2 separate regions of the Homo sapiens genome follow, and region 2 is reported to be linked to region 1. Evidence: microRNA targets listed by miRTarBase, many of them from high-throughput screens and not tested one by one. Region 1 holds a microRNA gene; the other region holds the end of a gene's coding sequence.
What was found. Region 1 holds the annotated microRNA hsa-miR-548e-3p (AAAAACUGAGACUACUUUUGCA, at 2,134-2,155, opposite strand). A microRNA usually pairs through its seed, bases 2 to 8, with sites in the 3' UTR of a target mRNA and lowers its output. Matches are read on the target gene's strand: a 7mer-m8 pairs with bases 2 to 8, a 7mer-A1 pairs with bases 2 to 7 and ends in A, and an 8mer does both.

Region 2: miRTarBase lists JMY as a target of hsa-miR-548e-3p. The part of its 3' UTR that is shown has no 7-base or 8-base seed match.

What each region holds. Positions count from the first base shown.
Region 1 is chr10:110,987,133-110,991,132 of GRCh38, reverse strand. It overlaps MIR548E (microRNA 548e), which reads right to left and starts at 2,207; the gene lies at 2,120-2,207. The region is part of intron 3 of SHOC2 (SHOC2 leucine rich repeat scaffold protein); the gene reads right to left.
Region 2 is chr5:79,315,718-79,319,780 of GRCh38, forward strand. It overlaps JMY (junction mediating and regulatory protein, p53 cofactor), which reads left to right. Exons shown (of 11, transcript NM_152405.5): 10 at 283-593. The coding sequence ends at 590. LOC102724530 (a long non-coding RNA gene) reads right to left here. Exons shown (of 3, transcript XR_001742756.1): 3 at 1,292-1,917. Among named protein-coding and RNA genes, the nearest start is that of JMY, 82 kb to the left of the region's middle.

The sequences.
Region 1 (4,000 bases):
AAAATATTAAATAATAAAATATTGTTAGACTATTTGAGACAGAGAAGAAGGCCGAATGAAAATCATGCTATATATATCTATCTGATCAGTTGAAGGAGCAGGCAAAGTTACACAGATATTTAGGAGAAAAGAGTTCTAAACAGAGAGATGGGAAGCACAAAGATCTCAAGGCTAGAATTTACCTGATATGTTCAAGAAACAATAAAATGTCTAGCATGTTTAATATCCTAAGATATACATAGTGACTAAACATCAATGAGAGGGATAAGAAAATCACTTGATAACATTTCAAGTATCTTAAATTTTGGTTCTCCTGTCTGATTTGCAGTAGAGTAAAGCAACATTTTGTTGTGTTTTTTTTTGTTTTTTGTTTTTGTTTTTTTTGAGCAGTAGCAAGATTTATTGCAAAGAGCGAAAGAACAAAGCTTCCACAGTGTGGAAGGGGACCCGAGTGGGTTGCCAATGCTGGCTCCGGCAGCCTGCTTTTATTCTCTTATCTGGCCCCACCCACGTCCTGCTGATTGGTAGAGCCGAGTGGCCTGTTTTGTCAGGGCGCTGATTGGTGCGTTTACAATCCCTGAGCTAGATACAAAGGTTCTCCACGTCCCCATCAGATTAGTTAGATACAGAGTTTCGACACACAGGTTCTCCAAGGCCCCACCAGAGCAGCTAGATACAGAGTGTTGATTGGTGCACTCACAAACCTTGAGCTAAACACAGGGTGCTGATTGGTGTATTTACAATCCCTGAGCTAGACATAAAGGTTCTCCACGTCCCCACCAGAGCACCTAGATACAGAGTGTCCATTGGTGCACTCACAAACCTTGAGCTAAACACAGGGTGCTGATTGGTGTATTTACAATCCCTGAGCTAGACATAAAGACTCTCCACGTCCCCACCAGACTCAGGAGCCCAGCTGGCTTCACCTAGTGGATCCCGCACCAGGGCTGCAGGTGGAGCTGCCTGCCAGTCCCGCGCCATGCGCTCGCCTTCCTCAGCCCTTGAACATTTTGTTTTTCTAAGACTAAGAATTTGGATCTTATAAAGTCATTTTTTGAAAGTGCTTTTATGTGACATTCCACTGAAAGTGATTATGATGAGATTATGCATTATTCTTTCTTTTCTTCTTTACCATTCCAATTAGTTTGTTGTTCATACTAACCAAACTTACAGATACATATTTTAATGTAAAAACATACAACACAAACTAAATATGTCACTGTGTGACATATTTACTATACTGAACACTATACTGAATATACACTGAATATATATGGCAAACAGAAAGCATATATACCCTGAATATATACTGAATATACTGAAGAACACTGTACTGAAATAAAACTTAAACCTATATGTTGAATTGGCCCAGAGTATACTAGGAAAATATGATCCTGAAAAATAAACACTGATAAATAAAATATAGTTCTTAAAATTTCAGAAATCTAGAAATAATACTTTGGCTGGCCAAGCAAAATGACTAAGTCACTTATCATGGGGAAAAAAGAAAATGGACTGGCCTCTTATTTTTGTACATTCAATTCCAGAAGAAGGTAGAACTACCTGTTAACAAGTTCTACTGAGATCCTCAAGGAAAGGCAGTTTGATCCAATTATTTTGTATCTATCTAAATTGTTCTTAAATTATAAAAGCTACACACATGCAAGAACTATAGGAGAATACTGCTCCCATGAACCATTTTTGAGCAAATGACTACCAACCAGATTGACTTCAGCCAACCAAGAAATGACTGAGGCAACTATGGCAACAGGACTGCTGATAAACATTAAGACTAAAACAAAAATGGGAATTAGTACAACAAGGTATGTTACCTATGCTGACAATGCAGTTAACAAAAATAAGAAGAAAAAGAGACTCCTCCAGAAACGGCAGAAAGTAGAATAAACTCATTGATTGCCTCATCTGTACCATGATTCATATTTATGGATCACTCCACCCAACAAAAGTAGAATACACATTAAACTGCACATGGAATACTTTTACCATGATGAAAGAATTCAAGTCCTATCAGGAATGTTCTTGACCACAATGGAGGTAAATTAGAAGTCAATAATATATCATGGAAAATTGTCAAGCTTTTGGGAACAAAATAACATTCTTCTATCAGGTTGGTGCAAAAGTAGTCTCAGTTTTTGCCTTTAAAAGTAATAGCAAAAACCGCGATTGCTTTTGTACCAACCTAATAAAGCCATAGATCACAGAAGAAACAAAAGGGTAAATTAGAAAAAACTTTTAAAAGGAAAATACAACATATCAGAATTTGTGGGATGCTGCTGAAGCAGTACTTAAGGGGAAATTTACAGTGCTAACTGTCTTTATGAGAATAATAGAAAGGTCTCAAATTAATGACCTCAAGCTGCCACCATAAGAAACTAGAAAAAGAACAAATAAAACTCAAAGTAAGCTGGTGAAATAAAGTTCAAAATGGAAATCAATGAAATAAAAACCAGAGAAACAATAGGGAAAATCAATAAAACTAAGAGAGGATCAACACAATTGATATACTTCTAACCAGAATGATTAAGAAAAAGAGAAAACATACAAATTCTTGATATCAGGAATTAGAGAGGTGGCATTACTATAGATTCTACAGATATTAAAATAATAAGAATGTTATGAACAACTTAATGCTTTTAAATGTGATAATTGAAATAAAACAAATATATTCCTTGAAAGACCCATATGACCAAGTTTGCTGAAGAAGAAAGTGATAACCTGAATAGCCCTATATTTATTAAAGTAATTGAAATTGCTTTAAAACAAATTCCCATAAAGAAAAGTCCTGTCCTGGATGGCTTCACTGGTGAATTTTATCAAATATTAAAGGAAGAAATAATGCAATTTCATACAAACTATTCCAAAAATTGAACATACGTAGCCAGCATTACCCTGAAACCAAAAACCAGGTAAAGATAGGTTGTATAACATTACATGTGAATTTATTATTTATTCAAAACAAATACATCTAATATTTAAAACTACCACCAGAATGTAACTTTTTAATTTATTTCTTCTTGGTAAGCAATTTTGGTCTTATTATCCGGGTTTTTATCAAGTTCAGGGAAACATTATAAAATTATATTTTATAACTATCACCACTATTTGGCCTTCTGGAACGTCTAGTCCTATCTGCCATGACTTTTTAACTTTTCACTTCTTTTGTATACATTTCTTTTTGATCTAGATTCTAGGGGACTTTTAATTTATCCTAGAGATCATCACTTTGGTCTCTGGCTGTGTTCATTTGGTTATATGGAATTTTCCATTAAATTTGATTTGGCAAACATATCTCTAAGAATTGTATTTTATTCTTTGTTCCCTTTTTGTATCAGCCTCATCATGTTTTAAACATGCAGTTTAAATATCCTATGTTTTTTTTCTCCTAAGGTCACATCTCCTTGTTCATCTTGGCCATTTCAATAGATTTTAAAGAGAAAAAAAAGCATGAAATAATTGTGCTTGGTCCTTATTATCTTGAACCAGAAATCTGATTCTCTTATTTTATACAGGACATTTAGTAGAATATTTATTTTGGATATTAATAGAATAATTCATTATGTGTTGGAGACAATCTTGCCTTTCAGAGGGACATCTAAACCATAAACCAGTTAACTAGAATATGTAATCTCTTTCCACTACAAATAGTAATACGATAGTGTCATGGGCCAAAAATCAGGGAAACATAGATTCTAACGGCTATTTATTACATCCATGTCTCAGCTTGCTTTTCTGTAAATAATTGTCCTGTATAACCTAAGACAATCTACTCAACCCTGCTAAGAAATTCCCTAACAACTGCTTTGTTTCAAGTAATGGTAGGTAATTCAAATAAATTCTCCCAATAAAAAAATAAATAAATAAAAACATCTTCCAAAACCAAAATCAGAGAGTTAACAACGTAATGACTAAGCACCAGAACAGAAACAAGCTGGGAACCCAGATACAAGCAAAACAATGGAGATAATTCTGTCCTAAGAAC
Region 2 (4,063 bases), not on the chromosome of region 1:
TAAGACCACCTCCCAGTTCCCAATCTGGTCACTTCTCTCATGTAGGAAATGATAGGAATACCAACAGTACCCACCATGGATTGGGTCTTGGGATTTTCTAAAAAGAAGGATAATTAGGATCCCTTGTGTTCTGATCACCTTCTGCACACATTTCATGATCCATTTTGAAGATGGTGTTTCAGCGTCCTGTGCTTTCACAGTTGCGAACGGTAGAGGTTATACAGTTTCATTCTAATTAAGTGCAGTCCTAACTGTAATACTGTTCTGTTTCATTTTCCAAAGTGAGCTCACCCATGGATGAGGTGCTAGCCTCCTTGAAGCGTGGTAGTTTTCATCTGAAAAAGGTTGAACAGCGAACTCTGCCTCCTTTTCCTGATGAAGATGATAGTAATAATATCTTGGCACAAATAAGGAAAGGGGTAAAATTGAAGAAGGTACAGAAGGATGTTTTGAGAGAATCCTTCACACTTCTACCCGATACAGACCCTCTAACACGGAGCATCCATGAAGCTCTTAGAAGAATTAAAGAAGCATCCCCAGAGTCAGAGGACGAAGAGGAGGCTTTACCTTGCACAGACTGGGAGAACTAACAAGTAAACGGCCTTATTGTCTTTAGTAGCATTCAGTAATACAGGTTTTATATCGGATGATGAGGTTTGGGGTATTTTTTATTGAGCCTGAGGCATATCGTTTGTTTTATAACCCAATTTTAGCATGGATCACAAATTTATGAACTTCAGGTTTTACTTAATTCTGTAGTTTCTAGAAACTTAAGATAACTTTTTAATGATTATTGCTATGTAAATACTATTTTTAAAAATGTCCTCCTCATTAAAAATTTCTGCTATACAGCTGTAATTGCAAGTAAAGTGACAGTCTCATTCTTGCCCTAAAAAAACAGAAAAGGGCCTGGCACAGTGGCTCACACCTGTAGTTCTAGCACTTTGGGAGGCTGAAGCAGGCAGATCACTTGAGGTCAGGAGTTCAAGACTAGCCTGGCCAACATGGTGAAACCTCTTCTCTACTAAAAATATAAAAATTAGCCGGGCGTGGTGGCGGGCATCTGTAATCCCAGCTACTCGAGAGGCTGAGGCAAGAGAATCACTTGAACCCAGGAGGCGGAGGTTGCAGTGAGCTGAGATCGTGCCACTGCCCTGGGCAACAGAGTGAGACTCAGTCTTAAAAAAAAAAAAAAAAAAAAAAAAGGCTTTCCAGGTTCAGTGGTTCGCTTCTGTAGTCCCAGTTACTCAGAGGTTGAGGCATGAGGATCTCTTGAGCCCAGGCGTTCAAATCCGGCCTGGGCAATATAGCAATACCCCGTCTGTAAAAAGAAATCAATACGTCAATTTTTTTTTTAATGCAAAGCCTTTTCTGACAAAGTATTTCAGTAACAAACTGTTATGCACACTGAATTTTGATGTCATGTTAGCTGACCTCAAAGGAGTTTTCTAAGATCATTCTGGAAAAATTGTTGCATTGTCTGATTATTTAACTTTCTAAACCCTTAAAAAAAACTACTTATTGTCACAGTTACTGTATTATCTAGACAAATTTGCAGGTATCATTAATATATAAAAATTATCTACATATCTAATGAATACTCCTATACATATTAAGATTCTCTTTGGTTACACATGTAGCATTCTCCTAATATAATAGAGAGCTATAGTCTACTACATTTTAATATACTAATTATAGAGTAATATGGCACAGATTACACCAAATATATAGAAACATTAAAGATAACATGGTATAAATTAAACAGTATATCAAATTTATAATGATGGTAACTGAAATGTTGTAATTTGTATAAAATTTATAGAGTATACAAACATGTTCTATTAATTATTATTCTTTCTTGATGGAATATGTTTCTCTAGGCTTCAAACATTCACCAAAGTAGGGAAGACTTGAGTCCTAGAAGGGAATAAGTAAAGGAATAATTAATTCATGTGTTAGCCCTGTGAATTATTTTTGTTGAATTTCTTTTTTTATTTTAGAGACAGAGTCTCCCTCTGTTGCTCAGGCTGGAGTGCAGTGGCACGTTCATGGCTCACTGCAGCCTCAACCTTCTGGGATCAAGCATCCCAAGTAGCTGGGACTCCAGACACATGCCACCATGCCGGGCTAATTTTTTAATTTCTTTGTAGAGACAGGGTCTCCTTATGGTTGCCCCGATTAGCATAATAATTCTTAAAACATGTTTGATCATAAGAATTAACTTGGGGAGCTTATTAAAAATGGACATTCTGTCCTTGACTTAAGAATTCTGAGTAGAACAACAAAGAAAAAAAATCTTTTTTTGACAGGGTTTCACTCTCTCACCCAGGGTGGAGTGCAGTGACATGATCTCGGCTCGCTGCAAGCTCCACCTCGTGGGTTCAAGTGAATCTCGTGCCTCAGCCTCCTGAGTAGCTGGGATTACAGGCGACTGCCATGATGCCCGGCTCTTTTTTCTTTTTTTTTTTTGTATTTTTAGTAGAGATAGGGTTTCACCATCTTGGCCAGGCTGGTCTCGAACTCCTGACCTCAAATGATCTACCCACCTCAGCCTCCCAAAGTGCTGGGATTACAGGTGTGAGCCACCATGCCTGGCCCAAAAAAAAGAATTCTGAGTAGATCTAATGTATATGCAAGTACACATCTAGATTTTGAAGACATAATATAAAAATGTAATGTATGTCAGTTTTTAAACAACTGATTACATATTGAAAGATTCTATTAGTTACATTAGGTAAAATATTACTGAAAGCAGTTTCACCTGTTCCTTTGGGTATGGGTTCATTAGGTAAATATTCCTGTAGTACCTCTCCACCAGCATCTGCATCAATCAATAACTTAAAAAGGGTAATATTACATTCACCATGATTCAGCCAACATTCAGTAGTAGCATTATCCTGCTTTTTTTCCTATTATGTATACAGTTACATGTAACAGTCACTTTGTATGACTTATGTTTTTGGATCCCAAAGTAACTTCGAGTTATTTTTGCTTGTACATATGTCCACTATGCTTTGTAAAGGAATATATATATATATATATATAGAGAGAGAGAGAGAGAGAGAGAGAGAGAGAGAGAGAGAGAGGGATGCATATCAGTTTGTGAATGTCTAGACTCTCAGGTATGTCTAACTGGGAATCTTTTCCATAGTGGATATTTGTAGGTTGTCTCCCACTTTACAGTTCTTACTACCATGTGTTGTTTCCTTCTGCTGTAGCTTCTCAGGAAGCTGCTTAAGCTTGTGCCTAAAACTACCATCTTTGCACTGACTAATTCCACAGCTGGACCTTCACATAAATGTGTGTTTAGCTCTTTCATTACAGATGGTCCACAGTGGCCCATTCACAGCACACCAGCAGCTGCTCAAGTCAGCCTATCCTTGTCTGTCTCCTCCCATCCCACCATATCCTGCCTAACCCTAGACATTGCATCAGCATTTTGTATACTCAAGTGGCTGGGATGTTACTCATAGCTTCTGGCTACTAATTTAGCCTTAGTATCAGATGTTAACATGGTGCATGGTGTATACACTTTGAAAATTGCTTAAAACTTTTTTCGGGGGTGTGGGAGACGGCTGATGGCTGGAATATGTGGTACAATGTTGAGAGAGAAACAGTGAAACACTTAGAAAATATATGAGCTTGGAAGTTTGCAGTCTCCCTTTACTAAATGTGTGCTAACCCAGAAGCAAACCATAGACTAGTATGGACTGATTAGGCAGTGATGAAGTAGCTGTGTATCACTACTTTGTGATCATGGAGACTAAAAGGCTGTGAACTTTTTATCTACAAATGGCTAAGAAGGCTTTACCGCAATTTGTATTTCCCATTAATTTATTAGATTCCTTTTTTTTTTCTCTCTCTCTTTTTTTCTTTTCTTCAAGACTGAGTTTCACTCTTGTTGCCCAAGCTGGAGTGCAGTGGTGTGATCTTGACTCACTGCAACCTGTGCCTCGTGATTCAAGAGATTCTCCTGCCTCAGCCTCCGGAGTAGCTGGGATTATAGGCGTGTGTTACCACTCCCAGCTAATTTTTGTATTTTTGTAGAGATGGGGTTTCACCA